2 separate regions of the Homo sapiens genome follow, and region 1 is linked to region 2. Evidence: fine-mapped expression QTL. A gene starts in region 2. The other region holds a variant in brackets. All regions are shown on one strand. Distances are from middle to middle. Region 1 overlaps ARB2A (ARB2 cotranscriptional regulator A). Region 2 holds the start of KIAA0825.

The links.
Region 1: its variant is fine-mapped to the expression of KIAA0825 in CD4 T cells (BLUEPRINT, PIP 0.95).

What each region holds. Positions count from the first base shown.
Region 1 is chr5:93,855,529-93,866,204 of GRCh38, forward strand. All of the region lies in intron 7 of ARB2A (ARB2 cotranscriptional regulator A), which reads right to left. Among named protein-coding and RNA genes, the nearest start is that of POU5F2, 120 kb to the left of the region's middle. The variant T/A (reference allele first, on the strand shown) is at 5,797.
Region 2 is chr5:94,613,515-94,624,190 of GRCh38, forward strand. It overlaps KIAA0825, which reads right to left and starts at 5,090. Exons shown (of 21, transcript NM_001145678.3): 1 at 4,986-5,090. SLF1 (SMC5/6 complex localization factor 1) reads left to right here and starts at 5,155. Exons shown (of 21, transcript NM_032290.4): 1 at 5,155-5,251. RefSeq lists enhancers at 4,104-4,968, 4,707-4,886, 5,197-5,376, 5,767-5,876.

The sequences.
Region 1 (10,676 bases), 760 kb before region 2:
AGTTGATGCAGTTTCTTCCTAGCCTTGATGGTCTTTACAATTTGGCATGATTTTGCAGTGGCTGGTACTGGTTGTTCCTTTCCATGTTTAGTGCTTCCTTCAGGAGCTCTTTTAGGGCAGGCCTGGTGGTGACAAAATCTCTCAGCATTTGCTTCTCTGTAAAGTATTTTATTTCTCCTTCACTTATGAAGCTTAGTTTGGCTGGATATTAAATTCTGGGTTGAAAATTCTTTTCTTTAAGAATGTTGAATATTGGAAAGGACATGCACACCAAGAACCCATCTGTACATCACCATCATCAAAGACCAAAAGTAGATAAAACCACAAAGATGGGGAAAAAACAGAGCAGAAAAACTGGAAACTCTAAAAAGCAGAGCACCTCTCCTCCTTCAAAGGAACGCAGTTCCTCACCAGTAACGGAACAAAGCTGGACAGAGAATGACTTTGATGAGTTGAGAGAAGAAGGCTTCAGATGATCAAACTACTACGAGCTACAGGAGGAAATTCAAACCAAAGACAAAGAAGTTAAAAACTTTGAAAAAAATTTAGCTGAATGTATAACTAGAATAACCAATACAGAGTACAAGCCACTCTCTTCTGGCTTGTAGGGTTTCTGCCAAGAGATCCGCTGTTAGTCTGATGGGCTTCCCTTTGTGGGTAACCCGACCTTTCTCTCTGGCTGCCCTTAACATTATTTCCTTCAACTTTGGTGAATCTGATAATTATGTGTCTTGGAGTTGCTCTTCTCGAGGAGTATCTTTGGGGTGTTCTCTGTATTTCCTGAATCTGAATGTTGGCCTGCCTTGCTAGATTGGGGAAGTTCTCCTGGATAATATCCTGCAGAGTGTTTTCCAACTGGGTTCCATTCTCCCCGTCAGTTTCAGGTACACCAATCAGACGTAGATTTGGTCTTTTCACATAGTCCCATATTTCTTGGAGGCTTTGTTCGTTTCTTTTTATTCTTTTTTCTCTAAACTTCCCTTCTCGCTTCATTTCATTCATTTCATCTTCCATCACTGATAGCCTTTCTTCCAGTTGATCGCATCAGCTCCTGAGGTTTCTGCATTCTTCATGTAGTTCTCGAGCCTTGGCTTTCAGCTCCATCAGCTCCTTTAAGCACTTCTCTGTATTGGTTATTCTAGTTATACATTCAGCTAAATTTTTTTCAAAGTTTTTAACTTCTTTGTCTTTGGTTTGAATTTCCTCCTGTAGCTCGTAGTAGTTTGATCATCTGAAGCCTTCTTCTCTCAACTCATCAAAGTCATTCTCTGTCCAGCTTTGTTCCGTTACTGGTGAGGAACTGCGTTCCTTTGAAGGAGGAGAGGTGCTCTGCTTTTTAGAGTTTCCAGTTTTTCTGCTCTGTTTTTTCCCCATCTTTGTGGTTTTATCTACTTTTGGTCTTTGATGATGGTGATGTACAGATGGGTTCTTGGTGTGCATGTCCTTTCTGTTTGTTAGTTTTCCTTCTAACAGACAGGACCCTCAGCTGCAGGTCTGTTGGAGTTTGCTAGAGGTCCACTCCAGACCCTATTTGCCTGGGTATCAGCAGCGCTGGCTGCAGAACAGCGGATTTTCACGAACCGCGAATGCTGCTGTCTGATCGTTCCTCTGGAAGATTTGTCTCAGAGGAGTACCCGGCTGTGTGAGGTGTCAGTCTGCCCCTACTGGGTGGTGCCTCCCAGTTAGGCTGCTCGGGGGTCAGGAGTCAGGGACCCACTTGAGGAGGCAGTCTGCCCATTCTCAGATCTCAAGTTGCGTGCTGGGAGAACCACTGCTCTCTTCAAAGCTGTCAGACGGGGACATTTAAGTCTGCAGAGGTTACTGCTGTCTTTTTGTTTGTCTGTGCCCTGCCCCCAGAGATGGAGCCTACAGAGGCAGGCAGGCCTCCTTGTGCTGTGGTGGGCTCCACCCAGTTCGAGCTTCCCGACTGTTTTGTTTACCTAAGCAAGCCTGGGCAATGGTGGGCGCCCCTCCCCGAGCCTCGCTGTCACTTTCCAGTTTGATCTCAGACTGCTGGGCTAGAAATCAGCGAGACTCCATGGGCGTAGGACCCTCCGAGCCATGTGCGGGATATAATCTCCTGGTGCGCCGTATTTTAAGCCCGTCGGAAAAGTGCAGTATTAGGGTGGGAGTGACCCGATTTTCCAGGTGCCATCTCTCACCCCTTTCTTTGACTAGGAAAGGGAACTCCCTGACCCCTTGCGCTTCCCGAGTGAGGCAATGCCTCGTCCTGCTTCAGTTCACGCATGGTGCGCTGCACCCACTGTCCTGCGCCCACGGTCTGGCACTCCCTAGTGAGATGAACCCGGTACCTCAGATGGAAATGCAGAAATCACCTGTCTTCTGCGTCGCTCATGCTGGGAGCTGTAGACTGGAGCTGTTCCTATTCGGCCATCTTGGCTGCCCCCACATTACATGTATTTTATAAATCTTTAAAGTGACTTCACATACCTCACTTCTTATTTTCTTTAGTCATACTAATGGCTATGATTTATTACTGCAAAACATCCAAAGCTAAATCAGCAAAGAGAAAAGGCACATAAGGCAAAATCCAGAGGAAACAAGGTACAAACTTCCAAGAATCGTCTCCTGGTAGAGTCACACAAGATGTGCGTAATTGCTCCAGCAACAAATTATGACAACACATGTGAAAAGTTGTGTACCAGGGAAGCTCATTAGAGATTCAGAACCCAGGGTTCTTACTGGAGGCTTGTCACATAGCCACTTCCTACCTAGCACCTTACCAAGAATCCAGACTTCCAGAAGGAAAGCAAGTGTTCAGCAAAGACCACATTGTTTGCACAATCATTTTGGGCCCAATGAGCCATTCTTTGTCAGTTAGGGTTCCAGAAACCTTCCTGAAATCCAAATTCCCAGATGATAATCAAAGGCCAGCTTTGCAGGCAGGCTTTTCTAAGGATAGCCATCTCAGGCCTGCTCACCTCACTTCTTAATTGTCATTACAATCCAATGGAGTAGAGAGGTCCTGGGAGACCACTTATATTCCTCCATCTCCTTTAGCCTTTATCTAATCAATTGGCATATCCTGCCATTCGCCATCTTAACACTGTACTTCTAAACTGACACTCTTAACTACTTCTAGAGCCCATCATCTATTTCAATGGCCTAGGAAGTAAAATTAAGCATATATGCCTGAAGTGACAGCATAAAAAGATTGGCAGTGAGAGGTGAAATATTAAAATGACAAATAATTGTTATGGTTATTTACCTGCTTGCAAATGTAAAAGAATTCTTCTAGAAAAAGAAACACTATAATGTAAAAATGATCATCTTTATAATGTAACATTTTGTTAATATAGACAGAAATTAGGGGAAAGAAGAGGAAAAAGAGGAGAGAGGGAAAAGACTTGTTGGTAGTGGCAGTATAATAGAGCTAAAATTCTAACTTCAAATTAGTGAGTGAGGAAGGAAGAGGATAGAAGATTAAAATGAGACACTTCCAAATACTGCAGGTTCTATAAAATCTCAATAATTATATAAGAATAGCACTGGCACATGTAGATAGACATTTGAAAGGAATAGAACAAAACCCAGGAATAAAGGCAAGAATGTAAGAATTCAATCTGTGTTAAAGGTGGCACTTCAAATCAGTGAAAAAAGAATGTATTATTTTAAAAATGCTATTAGGAAAACTGATTAACCATTTTGAAAAAAATTAATGATGCCTATCCACAAAATAAGCATAAAAACAAATTTCTAGTGGTTAAAACACATATTATTGAAGAAGGATGATCTCTCAAATAAATAGGGTCAGGATAATTATCAATACGGGAAAAAAGGAAATTGGATTCATACCTAACTCCAAACGTAAAAGTTAACTCTAGACAGAATATAAACCTAAATGTGAAAGGAAAAACTCTAAGGCACATGAAAAAAAAAGGAGAATATATTTGTATCACCTAGGCTAGGTAAGGACTTTTTAAATAATATGTTAAAGGATAAACCATATAAAAAAAGATATATTTTCCTATACTAAAATTAAGAATGTTTTAAAATATTTTTAAAAAGACAAGCCAAAGAGTGGAAGAGTGACTTGCAATATGTAAATAACACCTACAAGTCAGTAAAAAAAGATTTTTTCAAAATAACAAAATGAGCATACACATAAATAGGCAATTCACAGATGAGGAATCATAGATGGCCAATGAAAAACGAAAACATATACAACCTAACTAGTAATAAGGAAAATGCTAACTAAAACCACAATATGATACCATATTATAGTATCCAGGCTAGCAAATATTAAACAGTAACGATAACACAAAGATTTGAGAAGGGTGTGAAACAACAGGAATAGCCATGTATGGGTGATCAGAATAAATCATACAACTACTTTGGGAAACAATTTGATATTACCCAGTAAAGCTGACCCAACAATTCTACTAATAAGTATAGATTCTAGAGCACCAGGAGGCATCTGAAGCCCAGGAGGCATGCCTAAGAATGTTCATTAGAATCTTATAGGCCAGGCGCAGTGGCTCACACCTATAATCCCAGCACTTGGGGAGGCTGAGGTGGATGGATCACGAGGTCAGGAGTTTGAGCCCAGCCTGACCAAGATGGTGAAACCCCGTCTCTACTAAAAATACAAAAATTAGCCGGGTGTTGTGGCACACACCTGTAATCCCAGCTACTCAGGAGGCTGAGGCAGGAGAATCACATGAACCCAGGAGGCGGAGCTTGCAGTGAGCCAAGATCGTGCCACTGCACTCCAGCCTGGGCAGCAGAGGGAGACTTCATCTCAAAAAAAATAAAGAATCTTATACTATAATAGCAAAAACATTAGAAAGCAAACCAACAATGTTCATCCACAGTAAAGTGGATAAATGCCATATAGAGGTAAAAATGAATTACTGCTAAACATATAAATGGATGTCGTACACAAAAAAGCAAATTCCAGAAGTAAAAAAAAAATGATAAAAGTAAAGGCAAGCAAAACCAAACAATATAATAAACATGTTATTTAGAAAAATATGCATATTTAGTAAACTATAATGAAAAGGAAAAGAACATTAAGACAAAATTCATACCTCTGAAAGACAGGGAGAAGGATGTGAACACATGTCAATTTTCTATGGTAGTGGTAAGATTGTTTCTTTCTTTTTTTTTTTCTTTTTTTGTTTGAGACAGAGTCTCTCTCTGCCACCCAGGCTGGAGCGCAGTGGCACGATCTCGGCTCACTGCAACCTCTGCCTCCCAGGTTCAAGCAATTCTCCTGCCTCGGCCTCCTGAGTAGCTGGGACTATAGGCGCCTGCCACCATGCCCGGCTAATTTTTTGTATTTTTAGTAGAGATGAGGTGTTAGCCAGGATGGTCTCGATCTTCCGACCTCATGATCCGCCTGCCTCGGCCTCCCAAAGTGCTAGGATTACAGGCGTGAGCCACCGTGCCTGGCCCACTTCTGTTTTCTTAGTTGCAAAGTGTGAACCTGATTAACTAGAGAAGGACTTTGTAATGCTTATGCTAAAATGAACACAATAAATAGCTGAACTCCAGTTTTGGTTTCAAGATGTATAAGCAACTAAGCAAAAATCACTATATCTGTTTTGAAAACCAACATATTCTTTTAAGTATTTCTTTTTTTGTAAAGGAATAATTTTATTTCTAATGTTAAACTTTCTAGTCAAACCATCTTCTCCTGAACCCAAACATGCATACTATTTCTTGCTTCTTTGTCTTTGCTTATATAATTTCTTCTGTTCTGAATACCCTTCTACACCCGGTTCCATTTATTCCCTTTAACTTCTACTCTTTTTTTCTTTTTTTTTTTTTTTT[T/A]TTTAGCTCTGCTAACTTATTTGAGATACATTTCAGGCATCACTTCCTCCACGAAACTTGCCCTGGATTTTCCACTTCACCCCCTAACTGGATTATGTACCACTTCTGCCCCCACTCCAGGTACGATGTGGAATCTAGCATAGTCCTTTATCATTGTTATCACTGAGTTGCTATGGGTAGGGTCATGTGTTCTTTGATTTTCACATCCCACGTGCCTAGCACAGTGCTGTTCAATAACTATTTGATGAAATGTTTAAGAATTTATTGGTTGAAGGTACTTTTTCTTTAACGTCTCTGAAAAAAAAATCACTTGGTTAGCAATCTTAGAACTGAACCATAAACTTTATTATAGATGGTTGGAGCTTGATACATACAGTTTTTGGCTGCAAAATATAAGTTACACTAACATGCTCAGAGGCCATCGTTAAGCATCAACGCTATATTTAGTCACATACATGATCTCACCTGCTTTGTTCTTCCCATATTCCCAGTCAAAATCCAGCCACATTTAAGTCTATTTAGTTTACTGATATACATTAGGCCATACAAAACAAAATGATGGATAGTATCCGTATCACTGGATTTATAATATAAAGTTTTTCTCATTTAGAAAGAGGCATACTCTTTTGATCATGTATATTCTATTTAGAAGTAATAGAGAACTTGGAACTAATGTATATTAGAACATTTGAATAAAGACAGGTAAAAATAAACAAATCTTTGCCAATATTCTTAATCTTAAAATTAAATGTTATGATTTATTACTTCCTTGATTTTAAAATTTATTACATAGTGAAATATATTCAATGGTATTTATGACAGAGTATATTTACAAATAGAAAATTCATTCAAATTTAATGATGCTTCAAGTACTGGAGCTACTATCTACACATTTCTTGTTAATAAGTACATACATTATATCAGTGTTACTGAAGTAGTAACAGCATTTCCACATCACAATAGCAGCAAAAATAAGTTCCCCTGAAAGTCTTAACCAGGTTTACCTGGACAATCTGTGCAATATACTACAATCTGAACTTACTTCTGTAAACAGAAAAATGAACCAGAGATTCCAGTATGAATCAAATAATTCCATCAAAGAAAACCTTGCTAAACAGACTTTTATTCAAGCCCTGAAAACATAGATGCATTAAATATAAGCCTTTCTTTTAAATAATTAGATATCTACTTTGGGGAATAAATATATAAGCTTTCAATTATTTCTTTAATGTGGGAAAATGCTAAAAATTATGTTATATACATGCTGGCAAAAGGGAGGCTGTGATTACTAGTGTGTGTGTGTGTTTGTGTATGTGTGTGTGTGTTCCCATGCACATGCATGTCTTTGTACAGGCACGGGAAGAGAGAGAGTCAAGAAAAGTTTTAACAAAGGAGGGGACATTAAGGTTAGGTATTAGATATAAGACAAGAACTTTCTAGATGATGTTTAGAATTTAACAGAATCTTGAAAAATCTCTGATAATACTGATGCTTCTTTATAATGTTCAACCTTTAAGTGTTTGAGTATTATGAAAGAAATATTTCCTTCCAAATGTCTTAAAAAACCATTATAAATTAAATGGGTAATTTTTCTGTGCTAATTTTTAGAATTATATTAACATATTAATTTAGAGAAACTGCTTGTTTTTGTTTGTTTGTTTTCCTAGAAGTAAGGGCCTGGAGAGATGAATCCAGAATATCCACTTCCAACCACCTACCTTTGACCAGTGAGAGAAGAGATGCCCCTTGCCTCGTGGGCTCTAGCTCTGGGCAAGTGGCATCTTGAGCAGGTACTGAACAAAGGACAGACAGACCATCCATGTTATATAGGGCAAGCAGAATCTGGGTATGAAGCCAAAGGAAACCCAGCAAGGACAAAAACTCCTCAGAAATAGGATGGAAATAGAGCCTGGCATAGCTGGTTGGATTTGATGGGGTCATTTCAGTGCCTTTTTTTTTAAAAGATGGAGTCTCATTCTGTCGCTCAGGCTGGAGTGCAGTGAGATAGTTTACTGTAGCCTCAAATTCCTGGGCCATCTTTCCACCTCAGCCTCCCGAGTAGCTGGGGCTACCGGCACATTACCATGCCCAACTAATTATCTATATATATATATTTATATATATTTAGAGAGGAGGGTATTGCTATTTTGCCCAGGCTGTTCTTGAGCTCCTGGCTTCAAGTGATCCTCCGGCCTCAGTCTTCTGAGTAGGTGGGATTACATGTGTGAGCCACTGCACCTGTCTGAGTGGCTTTTTTTATAGCATTACTCTAGCATCCTGAGTGTCCCCTGAACTACAGTGGAGAGAAGATTCACATTAAGGCTTTTTAAATATGGCATGTTTTATTACTAATCTTTCAAAAATGTTGAAATATCTTAGGTTAACAAGCAACTATTTGTTGCATAATTTTAGCTCAATGGTTGCTATTGCTATTCAAACTATTGACATAATTTAATATCACTTAAAATTATCCATTGAAAGAAATATGACACATATCTTCATAAATATATTTTTAAATATTTTCTTTAAAATTTTAAAATTTTTTGTTTTAGTTTTTTAGAGTCTTAAAAAAGTATTTATTTTCTCTAGTCACTAGATTCCACTGTATTGGTTTGCCCATAAGAATATCAGCTTGCCATATTTGTCAAAACAAAAAATGTATCGATCACCCTGTCATTTAACTAATATTTGGTGTACCCACTATGTGCCAGACACTGTAAGAGGATCTACCTAACAAATGTCAATAGTATCACAAGCAATTAAGAAAATGTAAAAAATCTAAACAGAAATAATGGTTTTTAATGAAAACTGCTAATCATTAACTTCATATTATATTTCCTAAAAGATAAAATGTAGGTGAAAATGTTTAATGAACTGTAAAACCTTATTAAAAGGTTAAGTGCAATTATTAATTATTACATTATTTCTCCTAAACAATGAGTGTTGTAAAATGAATATACCACAATGAATATATCATTTGGTGGAGGAGGTGAAAGCAAAAGAAGAAAATAATTAGTTAAGGGATATTAAATGGTTGTGACAGGTTTTAAATGCTCCTTATATGTTTGATTAGCTTCATTTGAACTAAAAGTAAAGGCAAAACAATTTTAAGTATCATTGATAAATACCACCACATTACTGGAAATTGAAGTATTTCAGTTTTCAGAATGTGTTAAAAACATCCAACAAACTAATTCCTTTTAAGTGCCAAATTTTGAAATGGTTTATATTATTCAACAAAACAATCATGCTACATAACCTTATGTAAAAAAATTCTTATAGAAACAATTTGCACAAAAATTGAGGTTCTCATTGCAATGATAAGTTGTATTTAGTACAGAAAATGTATATAGTCTCAAATTTTAAAATTCAATGTGGTTTATAACAATCTCTAAGTATTGAACTTTTATTACTAATGATATATCACTAGTTGTGAAGGACTTTCAATTTCCCATTGAAAAATAAAATTTTCCTAAAATCCTATAACATATGAATGATGTCAAAGTACATACTGTAATCTGCCTAATATTAGAGTTGCTTATGAATATCGTAGCCTCCCTGTTATATACTGTGAGCTCCTGGTAAAGAGGGATTCTGGCTTTTCTATCTCTATTTCTTACAGAGGGCCAGCACAATATTTTATAAATAGTACTCAGCTATTGAAATGAAATGTGAAGAGATCTGTTCCAACATGTGCTACTAAACAGGATACACATCTTCAGTTTCAAGACACATTTGATATCTTGATGTATCATCCTGGCTAATTTCTTTTTTTTTGAGACGGAGTCTCTCTGTCGCCCAGGCTGGAGTGCAGTGGCGCGATCTCGGCTCACTGCAAGCTCTGCGTCCCGGGTTCTCGCCATTCTCCTGCCTCAGCCTCCTGAGTAGCTGAGCCTACAGGTGCCTGCCACCATGCCTGGCTAATTTTTTGTATTTTTAATAGAGATGGGGTTTCACCTTGTTAGCCAGAACGGTCTCGATCTCCTGACCTTGTGATCCGCCCGCCTCGGCCTCCCAAAGTGCTGGGATTACAGCATGAGCCACCGCGCCCAGCCGATCCTGGATAATTTCATGTGAGTAGAAATTACATGCTTTATTCTTCTCCTTTTATCTTTAATATCTAGCACTTGTGACATGGTACATAATCGATGAAGGTATACTAAGACAATGTAACCTATAACTGGCATTGTACTTTTATCACACTACTAGTTATTTCAGGTATCTTGAAAGTACTAAAAGAAGTTTTAAAAGCAAAAAGCATACGGAAACAATTAGGACACTTGGGGCTAACATCTTTATTTAATCTGGCCATTTACTTCCTAGCTTTATCATCTATATTTATCATCTAAAGATCTACCTCTTCTTAATAATATGACATCCAGTACTGAAAGAATTCAAACCTGTTCTCAGTCTGCTTTGGGAAATAAAGGAACAAAACTGACTATAATGATGCATAAATAAGTAAATCAACATTTATGGAGGAGTCACTACTTGCCGAATAGTAGGCAGGTGATATTTATACAATTTGTGAGGTCAAATATGAGGTTAAAAGGTAGGAAAAACAATGAATGTCCACCTTATCGCTATGAGGGCTGCCCCATAAGGGCACTCAGTGTATACACAGCACAACTCCAGGGGTTGCTAGTAAGAATTATGTCCCCTTAAGAGTTATGCAACTAAAAGTATAATTAAGAGAAAAAACGTTGCTAAATAATCTATAATATGCTATTAATTCTTAAGATGCATCCCAAATTCAGAGATGTTAAAATGTGATAAAAGGTTTTAGGACCAATGAAAAAAGAGGATAATACAAGCAATCTTCAATTGGCCTTTCTTTGATGGCATCATTTTATCAGCAGTCTGTACAAGAATTTCTGAGG
Region 2 (10,676 bases):
TTTAACAAAGTCTGCATTTGGCTTTAGTGTTGGCTTTTAGAAAGTAAATAGTCAAAAAGGCCAGGTGCAGTACCTGTCATAAAAGTACTCAATCTAGGGAGGTCAGTAGGGGCTGAATCCAACCCATACTTTGTTGGCCCAGCCATGTGTCCCTGCAGGGCTGTTGCCATAGAGAAAAAGATGCCTTTTTCCAATCCTTACAAAAGTAGCATCAGTTACACAGTGTATATCCAAGAGTTATGGATCCTCCAGAAGGGGGTGCCCTTTTCTAATCATACAAGGTGCTATAAGGGCTAGCTGTGAGTCAGGAGGACAACGAGGTGAGAGGGAGGCTAACGCCTCATTATATACCCTTTCATACCTTATGAATTTTGCACCAAGTTTCAATTAAAAATTTGATTAATATGGCAATACATGTAAGTATTATATGTGTTCATATCCTGTGGGTGACCATTTCTCCTTCTACAAATTGTAATAAGAAAATAGATACGAATATGTCTAAATATTTTACTATAAAAACCTTTATTGTACTATTACTTAACAGAAAGAAGTCAGTTTAAAAGTTATAACATATTCATAAAATTGAATAGCATACAGGCCCTAAGTATTATTTTATAGAAGCAAATTTATTGACATGGAAAAATTCATGGTATAGCACATTGAAAAAAGCAGGTCACAAGACAATATAGACAGTATTATTTCATTTTTATTTTAAAAGCACATATATGCAAATCTGTAATACAGAGAAAAATCATAAGTTATTTCTGAGTGGTGGGGTCATGGGCCACTCTTCCTTTCTCTTTCCTTTTTGGCATATTTGTACACTCTAATGTTTCTGTAACAAATGGGCGTTTTTCCATAACAAAGAAAACAAATGCCAACTCCATCCTCCACCCCATCCTAGTTATACACACAGATTATTGCTTATCGTTAAAAGCCTAACATCTCTAACTTGCCCACAGTTATCTACAGCTTGTCCTAAACTCAGCTTTTTACCTCAGCTTTATTACCAGCCTTCATCCATCTTACATAGCCAAAGTGACCTAGGTACTATTTCTGTTTTCTGACACCTTTGCATCTTCCAGTAGAACACTTGTCCCTCTTGTTCCCCTGCCAAAATCCTTTCCATCCTATATGGCACAAACTCAATATTACCTTTTTTATGAGGTCTTTCCTCATCTGCCCTCCTGGAAAAAAAAAAATCTCTTTTCTTTGCATTCCCATGTTTTGTGTTCAATGATGTATGTAAATTGCCCTACATATAATTATTTGTTTATATAACTTTCTCTCTCCTAGTAGACTGTAAGTGAAAATATTCTTCACCTTTGTCTAATTTATAAAGCATTTTTCATATCCACTAATCTTTTATCCTTGCAAGACTGAGCAAGAAAAAGAATCAATATTTATTTATCAGCAATTGTGTATCAGACAACACGTTTGAGGCTTTATAAGTCAACCCACTTAACGCTCACAGCAATCCTATGGATCCATTTTACATATGAAAACATAAGCTCACAAAGGTTCAGTGACTTATTAGTGTCATAGCTGGTAAAAAAAAAAAAAAAAGCATGGCTGTGATTTTTTTAACTCTATTCTTCCTATTGCAAAAACATGATTGTGTGTCCACCAATGTGGAAGACGTGAACACATATAAAAGCTTACATAAAACACATCAAAATTGATGAGGGTTTTCTGGCACTCCAGAACTGCTATATTCAGATAATACTTAGGAGTCAACTAAAGTCAGAGGATTTTTGAGGTAGGAGGGACCTTACAGATAATATAATCCATCAAACTCCTATATGTTATAGATGAGAAACATGATACCCAGAGCTTTTGCACACATTTAGCAGCTGAACCAGGATTAAAAATTCAACTGGAGGCTAGCAAAGTGGTTAAGATTATCGCTTTTGGGATCAGAGCCCTTCATTCAAATCATAGCTGTGTTTAATGACTATGCGTAACCTACGACAATTTACAAAGCTTATCTTTGCCTCAGTTTTAGCATCTGTAAAAGGAGGATAATAATACTTACCCACTGTGCTGTAAGGAGTAATTTAACACTGAATAGCAGAGAATAAACACAGAAAAATATTAGATATTCTCTCATCTCCTGTCTCACAGTCCAGTCTTCTTTGCAGGACAGCACATTGCCTTTTATGAATGAGTGTGGAGTGGACACTGTATTTCAGGGGCAAGGTGAGTAAAAATAAATATTTATTTATGTGGTAAATCCTTTAAAAAATGTACAAATACTTCTCGGTGGATAAATAACATTTTAAAAAGGAATCATTCATTCAATAAATGCTTATTTTTTATTTTTTAGAGACAGGGTCTTACTCTGTTGTGCAGGCTAGAGTGCAGTAGTATGATCATAGTTCACTGTGACCTATGTTTATTTATTAAAGGAAGTATAGAACATAGTAAAAAGAGCCAAAATTTAGAGGATCTGGATTCAAATCCTCTTGCCTTAGCCTCCCAAAGTATTGGGGTTACAGTCATGAGTCATGGTTCCTGACTTATTTATTGAGCTTCTATTACACGCCAGGCACAGTGCTAGATGCTGGGTTTGAGATGACGAACAAAACAGACATAATCCCAAACTTCATAAGCACTGAAATTTGATAGCAAAATATCCCTGAGATCTGCCTACGGGATCTGCCTACAAGTCAATGCAATGTAATCAAATACACATTAGTATTTCAGGCTAGCTATACCTATACAGTTGTAAAACAGGATATTCTTTAGAATTAACTTCTATGTCATTTCTAGTATTGGTCATTTCAACTAAATTTTTGTAAATTCTCTGAAAATTAGGCTATTTCTGTTTCTCTATATAGAATTGGGTATTGGGATGGGCAGGTTTAATAAAGCATATTCCTGAAACTATGTGATAATCCCCATCTGTTTGAGGGTTACGTGAGTGGAACAGCACAGTTTTGCTAATAATTCCTTATAAATCATTACAAAGTTGAATTTTATGAATTTGTGCTCATTTACTCATTCTTTCTCCCTACACACACACACACACATGCACACACAAATATACATGTATACAAATGTGTGTGTGAAAAGCTGTCTAAAGAGATAGTTAGCTGATACTCTGGACTCAGTCACCAATATGCTTGCTGATGGTCTCCAGATCTTCTGCATTTGCCCCAAGTGTTATGCTAATGTACAGTATAGGCATTTGTTTGAATTAGGATAATAAAACTGGCCAAGGATAAAGGCACTAAAGAAACTGCATTATTTAGATGTCAAAATTACCTTATGGTGATGAACACATCCCTTAAGTCCCTTTTATCCTCAAGTTTTGCTATCCACTTGATTTCTAAATGTGACATACTATCTATCCATTTTTACCTGGAGTGAAAATAATGATACTGTTATGTTTACTTATAAAGGTATAGAGCACAGTAAAAAGAGCCAAAATTTAGAGTCAGGTAGACTGGATTCAAATTTTAATTGTGCCATTTAATTGTATAATTTATGGAAAATCACAACCTCTTTGGGTCTCAGTATAAAATGTTTTGCAAAATAGAAATAATACAATTTTTGTGATTTTCTTTTTTTATTAAACATTAAATAAAATAATAAATGTAAAGTGCCTGGCAGACAGTATCTACTTGGGGTAAGTATTAATGATTGGCTACATTCAAGAGCAATTCAAAGAGAGAAATCACTGCCTCTAAAAACTAGTTGCTGTACAGATATAATACATAATATCCCTGAAGTAATTTATAATACTTTCAACTGGAGAAATAAAGAAAAAATACAAGATTCAACAAAATGTCAAGATTGGGATTAATGGGGCGATTATAAGTTTGTTGAATTATTAACCAACAAGGCCAGAAAATCAATGTGCTGTCCTAAATATGGTTTGTTGCATTACTCTCAAAAGGTTAAGAAGACACTGGCCTGGTGTTAACAGGGGCCTTGAATTGAACATATTGCATTTTTCTTTATCGGTATGCTCCGATAAAGAAAATGTTTTTATGGGTATGAGGAGCATACCCATAAAAAAAATGCAATAGTACCTACAACTCTTTCGGGAACTGACTGTTTTGAAAAAATAACAGTCAGCTGCCTTTTACGGGGGTTGGTGGGGAGGTAATTATCTAAATATAAGGTGGCAAGTGAAAACTAGTTACCTAAGAAATTGCATTACTTAAGAGAAGTCGCCAAGGTTCACTACATCACATCTTTCAAATCTTAAATGAGCACCTTTCCTCACATTATCCCTTTGTCGGAAGCAATTTCTCTTTACAACTATTCTGGCTACCTCAGACCTCCATCCAAAATTCTCCTGAATCCTTCATTATCGACAAAGCCTGGAGCAGAACGCAAGCATTCCTTTCTGAAAGCACACATACTTACTGATCACTGCTTTCCAAAAATGCATCTAATGCCCAAGCATGAAATTACAAGCTTGTTCTCTTATGTCTCAGCCATGAAAACAAAGACCGTTCTTCTCATCCAATTCAAATGGCGGGAGGAACCTTCAATTAATTCTAAATCAGGAAGGAACCTCCCCATCTCACTTCCTAAATGTTTGTAAAAGATGTCTTCTTCAGCCAACCTCCTGCCTTCCAGGCACGGCACCCCAGAACTACGGAAACAGTACTCAGGAATCAAGAGTGGCCAAACGCTGCCAATGGGAGATAGGAAACTCGTTGATCATTGGTAGAGAAACTCGGCACAACGCCGAGTCACGGTACACGGTGTCTTCGGCCTCGCCCAGGGACACTTGGTGACCCGAGGTCGAGTTCCAAGTCGGAGACAGATTTTGCGAGTGGATAAGACGGTAAGCCGGGATCCCAGGGCCTTCTCCAGCTGCACTGGGTGTCAAGCGCCACGGGGTTTGATGGGGACTCCTTCTGGTTCCACCCTCGCCCACTCACTTCTCGGGCTGGCCATAATGCTGCACAGAGCCCCGGCCAGCCATTAATATCAGGCGCAGGAGAAAACCCAGTAAAATCACTTACCAGTCTTCCACCTCCGGTGCTGATCTAGCAAGAGCCTGACCCGCTGGCCAGACTCAAGCTCTGCACCAGGTATTACCACCCTGGCGACGGCTCCGGAGCGTCACTGACAACCACCCGGAAATGGTACTATCGCTTCCGGGGCTGCCTAGCGCGCGGCGGGAAATTGTTTCCCAGAGCCCGGATTCGTGAAGCAGTTGAGTGCTGCAGCGGCAGTCGTCGCCCCTGCCGCCGCTGCCACCGAAGGAAGCATCCCAGACACCGGGAAGGTAAAGGGGCTCAGCTAGGAAGACACAGTGTATTCTGTCTCTGTGGGGATGTTTCTTCGCCGGGCGGTACCTCCGAAGTTTCTGCCTCCCGGCTGTGAGGCTAGGAAGGAAGCGGCTGGGGTGAGCGGCAGCGGTGTCTGGCTCTCGCGCTTTCTCCAGCTGCAGTTCGTTCCAGCTCTCCCGACTTCGCGCTCGGCGCCGGAGTTGGTGGGCTGCAGCTGCAGACCCCGCGACGCTTCGCCCGTGCCGCTGCGGGGACTGCCACCGAGCGCCCCTCTGCAGTACTGGGCTGAGCCACTTCCCCCGCTTCTGCTTGCGCAGCTCTGCCGCTCGGCCCGCCGCCTGGAAGGCGCTAGGCCCCCCGCGTCTCTCGTTTCCATAGAACCCATGGGGACGCCTCATCCTGATACCAGAATTTTGGCTGCTTTCCATAACTTAGCGTCTGCGAAGGTGGCTGGGATACCCCAGGCCCACTTTCCTGTGACGAAGAAAATTGTGTCATTCTTTCCTCTCTAGTAGAATTTTTTTTTTTTAAACTGCTAAAACGGCAGTGATCCTATCTCTGACTGCTATAGGCCTTTAAACACAAACATACACACATACACTTTTCGCTGAAGGGAGGGTCTGTGTTCCTGGGGTTTATATTTCAGCTGCCTGAAGGCTGGAAACAAGACTGAGTGGCTATTTTAAGATTTCTTCCACTTCCAAAGCCTCAGATTAAATATTGACAAAAAAAAAATTGGTCCGTCTCGGGTACTTCATATCATTATTTGACTCAGGAGTTAGATGGAGCTTGATTTTGGAGGCGCCAGCCTCTTTTTTGACGAATGACTTTATTAAAAAATTTTGTTGTTGTTGTTGAAATATTGGGAATGAACATTTGAACTGAATTTACAATGTATGTGTGACAGACAATGCACCTTGTGGACTTTTTGGTTTATGTTATTCCGTTGTGCCTCAATTCTTGGAAATACCTGTGGATGTGCAAGATGTTCTCATTATTGGAAAGTTTGATTACGTATATTGCAGGTGTTCAATACCTAAGTTGCTAGTATGAGGTGAATTTATATTAAAGAGTATATTTCTTTATTTTCTTTTCTTACCTTTCCTTCCTTCCTTTGCTTTCTTTCTTTCTTTGACAGAGCCTTGCTCTGTTGCCCAGGCTGGAGTGCAGTGCCTATCGGCTCACTGCAACCTCCGGCTCCCAGGTTCAAGCAATTCTCCTATCTCAGCCTCCCGAGTAGCTGGGATTACAGGTGCGCGACACCACGCCCGACTAATGTTTTGTATTTTTAATAGAGACAGGGTTTCACCATGCTGTCCAGGCTGGTCTCGAACTCCTGATCTCAAGTGTTCCGCTCGCCTCGGCCTCCCAAAGTGCTGGGATTACAGGCGTGAGCCACCGGGTAACTCTTGAGTATTCTTAATTTAAAGGAACTAGGATGTTCAAATACTTGAATGTTTAAGTCAATTTTATTGTAAAGACAGCGAACCTTCAGTACTGCAAATAAACCCCTATTCTGTTTTCTAAATCCAGATTTTATTATGCGTTATTAAGTAAAATTGAATTATATAACCTAACATTTTCTTGCTTCCCTAAAGCATAAAGCGTGGATCACGTGAAAGTCATTGAAAAGATGATCAAATGTGGTTACTTTTCATAATCAAAATTCAGAACTGAAGATTTCGTAATAAGCATCCACATTTTCCACTGATGTTCAAAAACATTGCGTTTTGGGAAACCAATAGTATAGCTTTTATTTATTAGTACTTTCCTTATTATATGTATCTTGATTATATTACCCTAAAGTAGGGTTTTCACCATTTAAATAAAACTTTTTTAGAAAGTAAAATAAAAAATTCTGTGTTGGCTTTGAATAATAAACCCTAAACAAAACGAATTCTCTCAAGAATGTAACTAAAATGAGACATCATCTGTTACTCTTGTAGTTGACTCTTTGAATATACTAATAGAAAATATATCTGTATAATGTACTATGTACTGTTTTTCACCTTATAAGGGCATGTTACTGCTTAAAAGTAAAATAACCCTGGAACTTTTAAGTTCACTTAATTCATACTTTCTATCAAAATTACTTTGAAATTTAAAATACACTGTCTGGTTATTTTTGAGGAGGAAGAAAGACTTTCTCATATGAATCACTCTAATGATTGATACCAAATCACTTTTGAGAGGAAAATAATGAAAACTTTGTTTCTCATTAGACAAAAAGAGCACTCTTTAGATTGTTTCTAGAAATGCTTTGAAATTTTAGGCACTGTTATTTTACTGAAAATAATTTATAATTATGTTTAAATTTTTTCAGTGATATTGCTGTTCTAAATGTCTTCCCACCCTTGTACTGTTCTTTCACTTAATGTATCTTTCTTTTGTGTTAGCTGAAAGTAGATTGCTTTATGAAATTATAATGTGGTTAAAAGTATTAGACTAAGTTCTGCAATTTAATTCACCTTGGTATTGTAGAAAAGGCATACAGTTTTTGCAGAAAGACTTATATGTGCATCTTGTTTTTACCATTTACTAGCTGTGTACCCTTGAAGTAGTTTCTTAATCACTCCGATTTCCCAGTATCCTCATCTGCACAAGAAAAATAAATAGCACTTATGTTGTGAAGAAGGAAATGAGCTAACATATATACTGTGGTATAAACCACAGTAGGTCCTCCATAAAAATTAAATCCTGCTTGTTCAACCTTAGACGTATGGTCTTCCTTCTAAGTAAACCAAATTTCCTAGGATACCAAAGCACATTTGACTTCTATGGCTAACCGATATCTACTGTCCACCTATTCTTTTTCTGAACCTTTCCTCTCTTGACCAACTTGCTTCCTTAAGGACTCCTTCATCCCGAAATTAACATCTGCCCAGCCTGTGCCTTGTACAGTACTGGATAGATTGGACATCTCCGTATGTCCTCCTAAGCTTCTCATTTTTTTCTCACCATATTCACTTTGGGGCTTGTTCTGTTTCTTCCTTCTAGCGCTAAATTTGTCATCAGAGGGACTAATTACTGCTTCTTTCCCAAATAATGCTATGGAAGTAAGAACAGCCCTCAAGTCTCATCACTGGATGCTTCTGTCAAATAATTAATATTTATACACACACACACACACACACACATACACACGTGCGTGTGCATCTCTCCTATCTTTGAAGGATGGGGCAGGAAATAGACACTGTGTCTTTAAAAAAAAAAGTCTGAAGGCCAGCTGAATGATATTAAACCAAGGGCCTAATTTGGCTCCTAGGCCTAAAGGGGCCAGAATTTCTAAACGCCACTTGTAGTTAAACGTCAAACAGTATTTTATACACACAGTATAAGTACTGTGACATGTGTCTACCTTTTGCAATATTGGTTCAAACAGAGATCCAACACTTGGACCCTTTTCAGTTTTAACAGTTATTTGTTTACTTTCCCAGTTAAATGTTTTGAATAAGAGAAATGAAAATTTTTCAGACTGTTTAATTCAGAGCAGAAATCTTGACTGCATTCAGTGCTTGGTATATGCTTTTCAGATGAGGGGAGTTTCAAATAATTTTCCTTAGTTTGCTGTAAAAGTAGGTTTAAAATCAAAAGAATTCACCAAAATAACAAACACTGAGAAACCACTAGTTTTCATCATGACCTTAAAACCATGAAGAGTATTAAGTGGCATGGAAAAATGATCACAATATAACATTACATAAAAATGAAGATATGAAACAATGTAATATCCAAATTTTGTTATATATATTTTTTACACTCAGATAAAACCTAAAAGTCAACATCCCTCCCCAGTGTTAACAATGGTATTACAGGCTGAAGGGATTAGAGATGATTTTAATCTTTCTATATACTTTGTAATATTTTTCAAATTTTCTATAATAAGTGCATGTTAAAATTGAAAGACAAGTCTGTAAAGGTTATTTTGGGGGGAAAACTTTAGTTCTTAAATATAAATATATAAATCAAAGTTTTTTTATTAAGTCTTAAATATTTATTTTAGCTAATGATACCATACAATTTATTTCTAAGATTACTTCTCTTTTATGGGTAGGGCTGGTTATAAAAGAAACCAGCCCTATATAATGTAGAGTAGGGAAAAGTTTATCCTTATTTTCCTTACAAAACCCCATTTATGCATCCCTGTCTCTCATTTTTGTAGCACCTTCCGCTTTTTCCCAAGGGTTGTACCCTGCTCTTTCATCTTGCCTCTCAAACCAGACTTTTGTATTCATATCTGTATTCCTGTCTTTCCTTGTCTCTGAGCTCAATTTTCAACATGTTCTTCAAACATGTTCTAGCTATGTGTTACATTATAAAGAATTCAAAGAACCTAAAAAGCTAGTTTATAATAAATAGTGTTCTTAATTAAGATGAAGAGTTCTATAAGTTTTCTTTGCATTTTGGACTGGCACCAACTACAAAGGAATTTCAGGCATCAAGAATAGGCCCATGTGGGAGATATTTTGGGAAACTCCATACCACAGAGACAGTTGCTTGCTATGCATAAAGGCCAACTCTGTTTATAGTCATTGTCTCCTTAGTTGTATTTTATTGTTCAAGGTAAGTAACTAATTTTTGTTAATTATAGATAAGATTTTAATAATTACTACAAAAGGACATTTTCTCATAACCAAGAATGTCATATAATTTTAATTTTTTTGACAGTAAAAATAAAACTTAACTGTCAGAAGTCATGCTCTCTTTTTTGCTTTTTTTTTCCCTCCTTTTTTTTGGTGTTAAGATAGTATCTTCTGTATGAATGCTCCAAGGAACACCCCCTATTAGTTCTAGAAAGATCTATAATTTTTCTAAAAATAACCACTGGTACAATTATATTATGGTATATTTACTTTCCTTCTTGTGCTGCAAGACTTCTAGAAGTTAGCTCTTGATCCTCCCTACCTCAGACATATCACTTACACTAAACTTGACTGTACTTTAAAGGATTTTTAATTGTCTGGGTTATTGATATATGTTAAACCAATTATAGTGCTCTTTTTGGCCTCATTAACATATCAGGTTTATTGTATTCTTAATCCTGCAGGGTCAGAAAGAACCATCAAACCATGAATTTTATAAATAAATCAATCAGTATATCTATACATGTTTATATCTATTCCTACATATATAGTTTTCCTGTGTAACTGCATGAATTAGATCCTGTAATACAGGTCATTCACTTGTCATATCATGTGCTGTAAAAAAGCATTGCTAAATGTATTATAAACTGTTGTTTCAAGTAGATAATTTTATTCTAGAAAACTGTTACAAAACTGTGCTAGTTATTTTGGGCCGTCACTGGGATTCCTGATTCTGTTAAAGTTTAGCTAGTAGCTCAGTTTTTCTGATAAATTTGTGACTAGAATGTCCTGTATTCTGATTTGTCTTTAAACATATCCATATTTTATGGATAATGTT